Regions from separate parts of the Homo sapiens genome. Here regions 1 and 2 are each reported to be linked to region 3. The links are microRNA targets in miRTarBase. Many come from high-throughput screens and were not tested one by one. Region 3 holds a microRNA gene; each other region holds the end of a gene's coding sequence.
The links. Region 3 holds the annotated microRNA hsa-miR-6887-5p (UGGGGGGACAGAUGGAGAGGACA, at 2,580-2,602, shown strand). A microRNA usually pairs through its seed, bases 2 to 8, with sites in the 3' UTR of a target mRNA and lowers its output. Matches are read on the target gene's strand: a 7mer-m8 pairs with bases 2 to 8, a 7mer-A1 pairs with bases 2 to 7 and ends in A, and an 8mer does both.

Region 1 (4,000 bases), not on the chromosome of region 3:
TAGATACAAAACAGTTAATATGTAGATTTATGTTAATGGTGTTTTTCAAAAATGTATAACCACCTAGAAACTTTCAATTCGATGTTTATTTCTGGAGTAATGTCTTAGTGTGATTCTAACTCTTTGGAAACAGAAGACTTCTGAAATGACTTTTTAACATCTGTCTTTCCCCACCCTCCGACTATGAACTCCAGGCAAGCAGGGAGCGTATTTATCCTATTCATTTGCATTTCCTAGCACCATGCACTTTAATAGGCAATAAATACATATATGTTGAATTTAACCAAGGTGTACAGTATAATAAAATTCAGTGGTGGCGAATAGCTTAGTAAATCTATTGCCTTTGTTTTTTATCTTTAAGGAAAGAATCAGAGTATATATGAACAGAGTCAAGGAAATAACAGACAAGAAAAAGGCTGGCAAGCTGGACAGAGGTGCAGCTTCAAGATTTGTAAAAAATGCCCTCTGGGAACCAAAATCGAAAAATGCATCAAAAGTTGCCAATAAAGGAAAAAGTAAAAGTTAACTTTTTGGTTTTGATGTACACATATTCAAAAAGTACATCTTCCCCCCCCCCCCCCCCCCCGCAAAATAATTCTGTGGCAGGGCAAGGTTTAAATGTGTTTCTTATTAATATGTAAATTCACAGTAAATATGTAAAGCTAAATACTTTCCTCTCCAAAGATCATTATCTTTATTGATTAGCACTGAGGATTTTAACATTGTGATATATTATATATTTATAATTTACCATCTCTTGATGAGACTCTTATTTCTTTATATAGGTCAGTCTTGCAAGTACCATTTTATAAGCAGCTGTGAAATTTAAGTGAAATGTTCTTTGTAAACATTTGTACTATTTTAAATGAATAATGACCTTATGAAGTATGCTATCTGTAGGCTGAAATTATAGGTACATCTGTTTTCACTATATGATATTAAGAAAGCGTGAAATGACTTAAATGTTCATTTTTTTCTGTATAGATACTTTATCATGTTTTCATGATTTTAGGAATTACTGCTTTGTTGATATTCAAAGTGTGAAACTAAAACTTTATGGTTGTACTTTAATTCTTGGCATGTTGCCTCTATGTCCCATTTAAAATAAAATACATTCTCATTAACTTTAGATGGGAAATAAGGTTGTATGTTGATGGATGAATTTTGGCATGATGACTGTACTCTCAATAAAGGCTGAAAATGTTGTATAACTGACCTGTGTATTTTTATCTTTTGAGTAAATTTGCCTTCCAAATTAGGAAGATAGGTTTTAGAAGTCATCACAAATAGAGAAATTCTTGAGTTTTTGTTCCTGATGCATGGTGTCCACAGTTCTTTTCATCTCATTTTTTTTCAGATTTTTTTTATTTCATGTTTTTGAGGCTGTATCAAGTACATACAAGTGTTTTGGAACAACTTCTTAAGTTACCTAATGCCACTTAAGCAGATGAGAAGTCCAAAGGAGATTACACTGTGTTTGTATTGTGGTTTATTTTTCTGGAATATTAGTTACAGAGAGTACTACATAGTAAACCTTTTTTTAAATGTCTAAGCCCATGAATTTTAATTATATGCCCTTAATGCTTTCAGTGTTTGAATCCATATCATTATGTGTAGGAATGCCAAGTATAGTAAAGTACTTTAATTTTTGAAAAAGGAGTTGTTAAAATTTTCTGTGTGATTAATTCTCCATAAGTAACCTTGAATAAATGGATTTCTTGATTTATGATAGCAGATATTGGAAATGGTCTTAAAATGTAATGGATTTTGTAAAGCATGTTGAACTCTTTCTATGACACATGAAGAGGAAGTCACTGATAGACGCAGAAGGTCTTTTCTGTCTCTGATGTCAGTTTTTGAAGTGGAAGAACATTAGTGAACATTTATAGTTATTTTACTCCTTTTTTTGCCTTTGTCTCCAAATTTCTAGCTATTTTTAAAAATAACCTCTTCATGAGAGAAATGTGTTACTGTTAAGATCAAGTGTAGTGTACCTGTCTTTGTGTTATTTATTGCAAAGAAATTTATTTGGATTTCTGTATATTTTCTAATTTCATAAAAGAAAAACAGCTTAAATGAAAAATGTTATACAATTGCAGAAAATCATTATTGGTTTTAGCTAAGTTATTGGTTTATGAAAGTGCACCTCTACGTTCTGTTAAATTGTGTAACTTTTAAGTGAGTAATTCTTTCATTATTAGGTAGAAATAAAAGTTTGAGTATATTCCATTTTATTATGTATAATTTTAAATACTTAGCACGTAATAAGGAGCTGAATGGCTGTAGTGCATTGGGTTGCTTATTTGCTTGTTGTTTGTTTATTCTTTTGACAAATATACTTAATGACATTTATATTGCCAGATACAGTGCTAGGTGCAACGTTCCAAAGACGATAACTACGGCCTTTATCCTATCTTTATAAGGTGTTAAGAAAAAAATAGTCTTTTTATTCAATTCAGTTTCTCAGAGTTATGGGAAAATTTATGACAAATTGTGCTCATTAACCTTATTCAGAACCATAAAGGGTGATGTGTGTGGTTGATCTATTTGACTATGGTGCAGTTCTTGTTAAAATAGTTTGTTCCACATGATAGTCTGCTCTAAGTTTAGATGTTAATTACATCTTTTATTAATCTCTTTGGGAATTAACAAGTTGGAGAAGTTGCATCTATAGATATTTTTAAGATTAGAATTATAGTCTATTAATCTTGTACTAAATAATGAGATCTTGCATTTTAATATTATTTTAAGTACAAATTTTTTCTTGTTCATAGTTGTAAGGTGGGAAATCCTTTTAGTAAAACAGAATATGTTGAGTGAAAAATTGAAGCTTGAATTATGTTACATTCCTGGAATTAGGAAGTTATGTCAGGTTGATTAGTTTTAAGATACCCTGTAGATTAAAAAATCCTTCTACTTAGCAATTAGAAATGGATTGGCATTATTTCTAAATAAGGTATTTAAAATTGACCAGAAGTGTAGGAAAGACTTCAAAAATGGACAGCGTATTGAATGTAAATACTTTTTTCTTAAGTAGGTCACTGGAGAAAAAGATACTTTAGGAATCACTCAGTTTATCATACAGTTAAATTATAATTTTATTCAATAAGTTACCAGAAATTCTGGCTTTGCAAAGTGACATTAACTAAGAAAGATGTGAACAGTGACTCAGCCTCATGTAATAGCTAAATTTGGTATCTAAAGGGAAGAAAAAGCACTGATGTCTCATTTTCTCCCTTCATAGCATAGTTAGAAAACCTGCTCAGATAAATTCAGTGGCTCTTTTCCTGAATGATCTTGGTAGCAACGTATTTTATATCAATGTGACGTGAACATAATTTACAAATATAAACATCTATCTTTCCCTATATTCTGATCTAAAACTCTCCAGTTTTGGAAATACAAGCCATATTTTGTTCATATATTAGCATTTTATAGTTGTCATTAACAACTATGTTGGCAGAAAGTATACAGGATTTTATAATGGAATTCTGTAGATTTGTTTCATTTGAATAATTTGCTATTATATTACCTGTTAGCGGGCTTTCAAGAAAATGATTTGAATGTTTTTTGGTTTGCATATTCATTTTCCTATCAAAGTGGGTGTACAGCCATAGACTACTCTTTAGAATAGCCACCCTCTGACTTGATGTGCCTTTTTAAAGTGCTTATTTATGGCATAACTTTTTATTATTCCCTCAAGAAGTCTGAGATTATGGCATAATTTTTAACACAGCCAGAAAGATTAGTAAAGTGTTCAGAAAAGAGAGAGCTATAGTGATAGCTATTGGCAATTGAGGTTTAATTTTTAACTTTATATCTCCCAACTCCCTGCCCAGCTAGAAACCTAAAGCCACCAGCTCTGTGTTAGTCATCTGTTCTTAAAAGGTTGAAACGAGATGCTGGTTTTTACTCCCTCTCCCCACAATTAGCCTTGAAGTTTAGCAAATCTATCATAGCAGAATAACTGTATGCAAGATGTCAGTTTTGTAAAGTGATA
Region 2 (4,000 bases), not on the chromosome of region 3:
GAGGATGGAGAGTCTATGAGCCTTATCTTTTAGGGACATATTCAGGGGTGGGGGAGGTGACAAGGCAGTAACACATTGACTCACATAGAATGACTATCTTAGACCCTAAAGCAGTGGGTGGATCTGACTGACAGTTTAGCCCTAGTGGGGCTGTCTGAAGGGCCCCAGGTCCCTCAGTCCCGTACTGTACTCACCCCCTCCTGTTTCTTTGTCAGATGAGAATATCCCCGAGTTGGCGGCTGAGCTGGTGCAGCTGGGCTTCATTAGTGAGGTGAGGTTTCTGCCTTCATCTGCCCTGGCTGCCCCCATGCCTTCTCTTCTCTCAGCCCCCATCTTACTGAGCTCTTCTCCCCCAGGCTGACCAGAGCCGGTTGACTTCTCTGCTAGAAGAGACCTTGAACAAGTTCAATTTTGCCAGGAACAGTACCCTCAACTCAGCCGCTGTCACCGTCTCCTCTTAGAGCTCACTCGGGCCAGGCCCTGATCTGCGCTGTGGCTGTCCCTGGACGTGCTGCAGCCCTCCTGTCCCTTCCCCCCAGTCAGTATTACCCTGTGAAGCCCCTTCCCTCCTTTATTATTCAGGAGGGCTGGGGGGGCTCCCTGGTTCTGAGCATCATCCTTTCCCCTCCCCTCTCTTCCTCCCCTCTGCACTTTGTTTACTTGTTTTGCACAGACGTGGGCCTGGGCCTTCTCAGCAGCCGCCTTCTAGTTGGGGGCTAGTCGCTGATCTGCCGGCTCCCGCCCAGCCTGTGTGGAAAGGAGGCCCACGGGCACTAGGGGAGCCGAATTCTACAATCCCGCTGGGGCGGCCGGGGCGGGAGAGAAAGGTGGTGCTGCAGTGGTGGCCCTGGGGGGCCATTCGATTCGCCTCAGTTGCTGCTGTAATAAAAGTCTACTTTTTGCTAAAAGCGTCGTGTGTTCGCGCCTTTCCCGCCAGGGGGAGCGGGCCCGGGGCGGAGGCGGGGCCCAGGTGGGAGGGGGACCCGGGACGGAGGCGGGGCCCAGGTTGGGGCGGGGCCGGGCCCAGGTACAGCGGCCCTGCGGCTGGCGCGGCGGACGGGATGAGGCGCTGCAGTCTCTGCGCTTTCGGTAACTTCCGGGCCCTGGCGTCTCGTCTCCTTACCCTGGGGCTACCCTTGCCCCGTCCTACTGCCCGCGGTTAACCCGCCGCGAGCCGCCTCTCCCCTCCCCGCCCGACTCAACCCTGCCCTCCCCCGTGCTTTGCAGACGCCGCCCGGGGGCCCAGGCGGCTGATGCGTGTGGGCCTCGCGCTGATCTTGGTGGGCCACGTGAACCTGCTGCTGGGGGCCGTGCTGCATGGCACCGTCCTGCGGCACGTGGCCAATCCCCGCGGCGCTGTCACGCCGGAGTACACCGTAGCCAATGTCATCTCTGTCGGCTCGGGGCTGCTGGTGAGCGCGGCAGGCGACCCGGGCGGGGGCCGGGCTCCCGGAGAGCCCAGCAGGCCAAAGGCTTTGTGTCTTCCACAGAGCGTTTCCGTGGGACTTGTGGCCCTCCTGGCGTCCAGGAACCTTCTTCGCCCTCCACTGGTGAGAGGGACTTCCCTGGAGCTTTTAACGAGTAGGCTTGAGTCAGGGAAATGGGGGCTGACTGAGCTTGGTCTTTCAATAGATTGGAGGAGCCTCAGAGAAACTGGGTGTCTAGTCACTGGGAGAGTTAGCCAGGCCCAGGCTGCTCACCCTGATCTCCTGTCCCTGCCAGCACTGGGTCCTGCTGGCACTAGCTCTGGTGAACCTGCTCTTGTCCGTTGCCTGCTCCCTGGGCCTCCTTCTTGCTGTGTCACTCACTGTGGCCAACGGTGGCCGCCGCCTTATTGCTGACTGCCACCCAGGACTGCTGGATCCTCTGGTACCACTGGATGAGGGGCCGGGACATACTGACTGCCCCTTTGACCCCACAAGAATCTATGTGAGCACATTCTCTTCCTTCTTGTGGTCTACAAAGCCTTGGTCCTGCCCTTTTAATTTCCCCTATTTGCTGCACTTGCCCTACTCCCTCCTACTCCCCATCCTTCTTGCTTTTCAGGATACAGCCTTGGCTCTCTGGATCCCTTCTTTGCTCATGTCTGCAGGGGAGGCTGCTCTATCTGGTTACTGCTGTGTGGCTGCACTCACTCTACGTGGAGTTGGGCCCTGCAGGAAGGACGGACTTCAGGGGCAGGTAAGGAAGGCAAACAGGAAGGGTTCATTCCACAGAGACTGGCTGTGTTGAAAAGATGCTGACCGGCCGGGTGCGGAGGCTCACACCTGTAATCCCAGCACTTTGGGAGGCTGAGGCAGGCGGATCACTTGAGGTCAGGAGTTTGAGACCAGCTTGGACAACATGGTGAAACCTCGTCTCTACTAAAAATACAAAAAATTAGGTGGGGTGGTGGGCGCCTGTAATCCCAGCTACTTGGAAGGCTGAGGCAGGAGAATCGCTTGAACCCGGAAGGCGGAGGTTGCAGTGAACCGAGATCACGCCACTGCACTCCAGCCTGGGCAACAGAGTGAGGCTCCGTCACAAAAAACAAAACAAAAAAAAGATGCTGACCTATCATTCAGGGCGAGGGTGTCTAACTCTATCTTCTTCTGCAGCTAGAGGAAATGACAGAGCTTGAATCTCCTAAATGTAAAAGGCAGGAAAATGAGCAGCTACTGGATCAAAATCAAGAAATCCGGGCATCACAGAGAAGTTGGGTTTAGGACAGGTAATGGGCCTTGAAGGTGGTGGCCCGGGTAAGAGCGGGGACAAGGAAGTGCTCTTAGAACTGGGTCTAGGTCTTGCCATGCTGCTTTCCCCTCTGACCTGGGTTGGTTCTCCCCTCTGTCCAGCAGGTGCTGTTCCGAGACTCAGTCCTAAAGGGTTTTTTTTCCCACTAAGCAAGGGGCCCTGACCTCGGGATGAGATAACAAATTGTAATAAAGTAACTTCTCTTTTCTTCTACTTGATTATGATTCCTTTTGGGGAAAAGGCACTGTGTGGTGTTGGGAATGACTTTGATCAAAGAATACAGTGGTCTCAATTATTTATAAAACTTTAATGAGGGAGAGGCCCTAACTCTTCCTCAGCTCTACCAACTACTGAAAGGAAAAGCTGGTGCTGGGGAGCCCTCCACACCACTGACTGATGAATTTCAGCACGTCCTGGCACACTGGGCTGTGGGAGGTCTGTGAGCAAATGGAAGAACATGAGAGGAACTTGTTAATGCTGGAAATACAAAATCAGCTCCATCGCAGGCTTCAGGGTCTGCATCTGCCTTCCTGTAATCCCACCCATCTTTCTAGTGTGTATGTGGGTTTTTTGTTTGTTTTGAGACAAAGTCTTGCTTTGTCGCCCAGGCTGGAGTGCAGTGGCACAATCTCAGCTCACTGCAACCTCTGCCTCTCGGGTTTAAGCGATTCTCCTGCCTCAGCCTCCTGAGTAGCTGGGATTACAGGTGCACGCCACCAGACCCGGCTAACTTTTGTATTTTTAGTAGAGACGAGGTTTTAACCATGTTGGCCAGGCTGGTCTCAAACTCCTGACCTCAGGTGATCCGCCCACCTTGGCCTCCCAAAGTGCTGGGATTAAAGGTATGAGCCACTGCACCCAGACTTGTTTTTTTTTCTTTTTTTAGTGCTGCCCTCTCTGCCTTCATTCTCCAAGTCCTCCTCTCTAACCTTGATGGCCATAAGGAATTTATTCCAGTTGTCCTTGTTAGCAGCCTTCCCTGGCCGCTTAAATTCAATTTTGTTCCTCAGAATGGGGTATCCTGTGGAGGAAGAAAAAATGATGAACTGGGGTTTGAGAGAGATTGAGGAGGGAAAAATGAGGAGCAGCCTGGGGGGTAGAAAGCACAGTCCTGTCTTTTGTACCCTTTACTGAATCCTAGTAAAATTAAGTTTATTGATCCTGCTGCTTTCTACCCACCACAGGATCTGGGGTGCTGTAGGCTTCTATACCTGTAATAAGGCAGGGCAGGGCTCGAACACCAGTGCTCGCTGCCACTAGGGAGGCC
Region 3 (4,148 bases):
TTTCCCTTTTTTCTTTTCTTTTTTTTTTTTCGGAGACAGAGTCTCGCTCTGTTGCCCAGGCTGGAGTGCAGTGGCATGATCTCGGCTCACTGCAACCTCCACCTCCCAGGTTCAAGCGACTCTCCTGCCTCAGCCTCCCAAGTAGCTGGCATTACAGGCGTGTGCTGCCATGCCTGGCTAACTTTTGTATTTTTAGAAGAGACAAGGTTTCACCATATTGGCCAGGCTGGTCTCGAACTCCTGACCTCAAGTGATCCTCCTGCCTCGGCCTTCCAAAGTTTTGGGATTACAGGCCTAAGCCACTGTGCCCAGCCCGCTTTTTACTTTTTCACTGCAGCCTTGACCTCCCAGGCTCAAGAGATCCTTCCACGTCAGCCTCCCAAAGCTCTGGGATTACAGGCACACTTTTTGTCCATTACATAGGGCAAGACCAGTATTCCCTGCAGGGTAGTGATCTAAAATTACATTTTCAATAAAGTCTATTTAAGTGTATAATAGTGAGTCATTTTCAATGATGTGCAAACACCAGACCAGGTGGGTGTGGACATGGTGGAAGCGGGAGGATGGGCTTTGAGCATGATTGGACTTGGGGAAACAGGAATCTGGGAACTGAAACCATCTGTCGTCTTGACCAGAAAAGTCCCCCGCTGCTGCAGGAGGCATGGATTAACCACGTGTCTGGAAACATGAGACCAAATAGTGGCTAAAAACCTCCTAGATTAGAACCCATTTCAGGTGGCAGAATGCTGGCGTGACTCGGAGGTGTGGGGCTGAGTGGGCGAGTCCACATTTCCTCGTTGGGATATGAGGGGATGAGGTGGCTGCTCAGTGACAGGACCCCTGTCCCGCAGGAGACCCTTTCCCAAGGCCCCTGAAACTCCCCAGGCCCTGCCCAAAGGCTTGGCTGAGGCCGGCATCACCATCTCCCCTCCTTCCCCTCTTCTCCCACTAGGCTTTCCTGTCCTGGACGCCAATGACCTAGAAGGTGAGTCAGACTGGACTCTCACCCGTCACACCCCCAAATTCTCCCCTGGGTGGGGAAGGCCTGCATCCTGGCTGTAATCCTGGATTCATGATCTTTTTTCTTTCCTTGCAGATAAAAACAGTCCTTTCTACTATGGTGAGAGCCCGTGCCCCCTTTCCCCTCCCCACAACCCCACATACTGCTTGGTGCCAAGGGTTCCCATACAGGGTTGGGGCCTGACGTGAGCATCACAGGACAAAGATACGAAGGGACTAGGATGGGGTTACTGAATATGCCACACAGTGGATTAAAGGAACTAGAGGCAGCAACCTGGCCTTTGGGAAGGTTCTATTCCAGCAAGATAGACACACGCAGGAGGTGAGGACAGTTTGCAAGAAGCCATTGGTTGGTTCAGATCAACTGCTGGGAGAAGTGTTGACTTGAGAAAACTTCCTGGAGGTGGTGAGCTATTGGATCAAAACCCTCATCTGGCCTCCAGGTTCCAATGACCTGCTCCCTACTCCCCGCTCTGCCCTCACCTCTCCACGCTCCTCATTCCTTCTGCTCCAAGCCTCTCAGACACAGCAGACATACTGCCAGCCTCAGACCTCTGCACCTGCTGGTTCCTCTGCCTGGAACACTTCCTTCCACAGAACCACATGGCTCCCTCCCTTCCCTCTGCTCAAATGCAGCCCCCTGAGAGGCCTTCCCTGACAACTCCCTCTAAAAGAGCTGCCATCTGACTTTTTTTTTGTTTTAGAGACAGCGTCTCACACTGTTGCCCAAGCTGGAGTGCTGTGGTGTAATCATAGCTCACTGCAGCCTCAAACTCCTGGTCTCAAGCGATCCTCCTGCCTCAGCCTCCTGAATAGCTGGGACTGCAGGCATACACCACCATGCCTGGCTAATTTTTGTATACTTTGTAGAGATGGGTTCTCACTATGTTGCTCAAGCTGGTCTAGAACTCCTGAACTCCTGAAGTCCCAAAGCACTGGGATTATATTAGGTTGGTTCAAAAGTAATTGTGGTTTTTGCAACTGCTTTTAATGGCAAAAATGCAATTTTTTTTTTTTGAGGCAGAATTTTGCTCTTTCACCCAGAGTGTGACTGGCTGGAGTGCAATGGTGCAATCTTGGCTCACTGCAACCTCTGCCTCCCGGGTTCAAATGATTCTCCAGCCTCAGCCTGCTGAGTAGCTGGGATTACAGGCGCCTACCACCATGCCTGGCTAATTTTTGTATTTTTAGTAAAGACGGGGTTTCACCATGTTGGCCAGGCTGGTCTGGAACTCCTGACCTCAGGTGATCCGCCCACCTTGGCCTCCCAAAGTGCTGGGATATCAGGCGTGAGCCACCATGTCTAGCCAAAAACGCAATCACTTTTGCTCCAACCTAATAGGTGTCAGCCACTATGCCCAGCCCGCCCTCTGACTTTCCATCTCCCACCCCACTTATTTTTCTTCAAACCACTTATCTCTGCCTGACCCTGCACGACAGATCGTGTTTGCTGGTGTGTGAACCAGAATGTGAGCACCTGGGATTTTGTCTGTTTTCTTATGGCGGTGTCCCCAGCACCCTGTGCATCCTAGGTGCTCCATATATATTTGTCAAGAGAATGGGGGGACAGATGGAGAGGACACAGGCTGGCACTGAGGTCCCCTCCACTTTCCTCCTAGACTGGCACAGCCTCCAGGTTGGCGGGCTCATCTGCGCTGGGGTTCTGTGCGCCATGGGCATCATCATCGTCATGAGTGAGTGGAGGAGCTCGGGGGAGCAGGCGGGCCGGGGCTGGGGCTCCCCTCCCCTGACCACTCAGCTCTCCCCAACAGGTGCAAAATGCAAATGCAAGTTTGGCCAGAAGTCCGGGTAAGATACTGTTCCGGCATGCCCGCCTCAGGCTGACTGGACGCTTTTCAGGGTGAAAGGGCTAACTCTCCCAGCAGGAGAGGCCTCGGGGCTCTGCCCTTTAGAGTTCCTGCCGCTAAGATTTCCAGGTTTATTGTTTCTAGCTGGTAATCCCCAGGGGGCCCCAAATCCTGAAATGCTTTGGCCCCTGGGATTGCACAACCCCCCAAATGGAAAGGCAGCCAGGAAGACATGTCTGGGCAGGCTAAGAACCCTCTATCCGGAGGGAGAGGGCAAATGGGGGCGGACACCAATCTCACCACTTTTGTCTCCTTAGTCACCATCCAGGGGAGACTCCACCTCTCATCACCCCAGGTAAGATGGGGCAGCATGGGGCTCAGGGGAACACGGAAGTGGTGTGTGTGTGTGTGTGTATGTGTGTGTTTGCACACTGGAAAGAAAAGAACTCAATCCACCCTCACAAACGGACCCCATCACTTCCCGCAGGCTCAGCCCAAAGCTGATGAGGACAGACCAGCTGAAATTGGGTGGAGGACCGTTCTCTGTCCCCAGGTCCTGTCTCTGCACAGAAACTTGAACTCCAGGATGGAATTCTTCCTCCTCTGCTGGGACTCCTTTGCATGGCAGGGCCTCATCTCACCTCTCGCAAGAGGGTCTCTTTGTTCAATTTTTTTTAATCTAAAATGATTGTGCCTCTGCCCAAGCAGCCTGGAGACTTCCTATGTGTGCATTGGGGTGGGGCTTGGGGCACCATGAGAAGGTTGGCGTGCCCTGGAGGCTGACACAGAGGCTGGCACTGAGCCTGCTTGTTGGGAAAAGCCCACAGGCCTGTTCCCTTGTGGCTTGGGACATGGCACAGGCCCGCCCTCTGCCTCCTCAGCCATGGGAACCTCATATGCAATTTGGGATTTACTAGTAGCCAAAAGGAATGAAAGAGAGCTCTAACCAGATGGAACACTGGAACATTCCAGTGGACCCTGGACCATTCCAGGAAAACTGGGACATAGGATCGTCCCGCTATGATGGAAGTGTTCAGACAGTTTATAATAGTAAGCCCCTGTGACCCTCTCACTTACCCCGAGACCTCACTTTATTACAAGATCTTTCCAAATACCCAAATGTCCCTGCAAGCCCGTTAAATAATTCCCTATGCTACCCTTAATAACATACAATGACCACATAGTGTGAGAACTTCCAACAAGCCTCAAAGTCCCTTGAGACTCCCCAATACCTAATAAGGCATGCGAAATGTTCTCATGAACTACCCCACAACACGCCTAAAACTCAAAACACCCAAAAATATCTCCTCCAATGTCCTG

Region 1: miRTarBase lists C1D as a target of hsa-miR-6887-5p. Seed matches in the 3' UTR shown: 7mer-m8 at 567-573.
Region 2: the mRNA of NRBP1 is a reported target of hsa-miR-6887-5p. Seed matches in the 3' UTR shown: 8mer at 531-538.

What each region holds. Positions count from the first base shown.
Region 1 is chr2:68,039,415-68,043,414 of GRCh38, reverse strand. C1D (C1D nuclear receptor corepressor) reads left to right here. Exons shown (of 5, transcript NM_173177.3): 5 at 362-2,285. The coding sequence ends at 526. Among named protein-coding and RNA genes, the nearest start is that of C1D, 22 kb to the left of the region's middle.
Region 2 is chr2:27,441,352-27,445,351 of GRCh38, forward strand. It overlaps NRBP1 (nuclear receptor binding protein 1), which reads left to right. Exons shown (of 18, transcript NM_013392.4): 17 at 216-271; 18 at 357-908. The coding sequence ends at 461. It overlaps KRTCAP3 (keratinocyte associated protein 3), which reads left to right and starts at 1,030. Exons shown (of 7, transcript NM_173853.4): 1 at 1,030-1,089; 2 at 1,228-1,412; 3 at 1,491-1,550; 4 at 1,723-1,929; 5 at 2,047-2,181; 6 at 2,598-2,710; 7 at 2,835-2,946. The coding sequence starts at 1,062. The coding sequence ends at 2,705. It overlaps IFT172 (intraflagellar transport 172), which reads right to left. Exons shown (of 48, transcript NM_015662.3): 46 at 3,945-4,000; 47 at 3,663-3,754; 48 at 3,026-3,170. The coding sequence ends at 3,081. RefSeq lists an enhancer at 1,165-1,707.
Region 3 is chr19:35,120,126-35,124,273 of GRCh38, forward strand. It overlaps MIR6887 (microRNA 6887), which reads left to right and starts at 2,575; the gene lies at 2,575-2,639. It overlaps FXYD3 (FXYD domain containing ion transport regulator 3), which reads left to right. Exons shown (of 9, transcript NM_005971.4): 4 at 953-985; 5 at 1,097-1,120; 6 at 2,640-2,714; 7 at 2,793-2,829; 8 at 3,146-3,183; 9 at 3,316-4,148. The coding sequence ends at 3,332. RefSeq lists enhancers at 2,132-3,021, 3,022-3,909.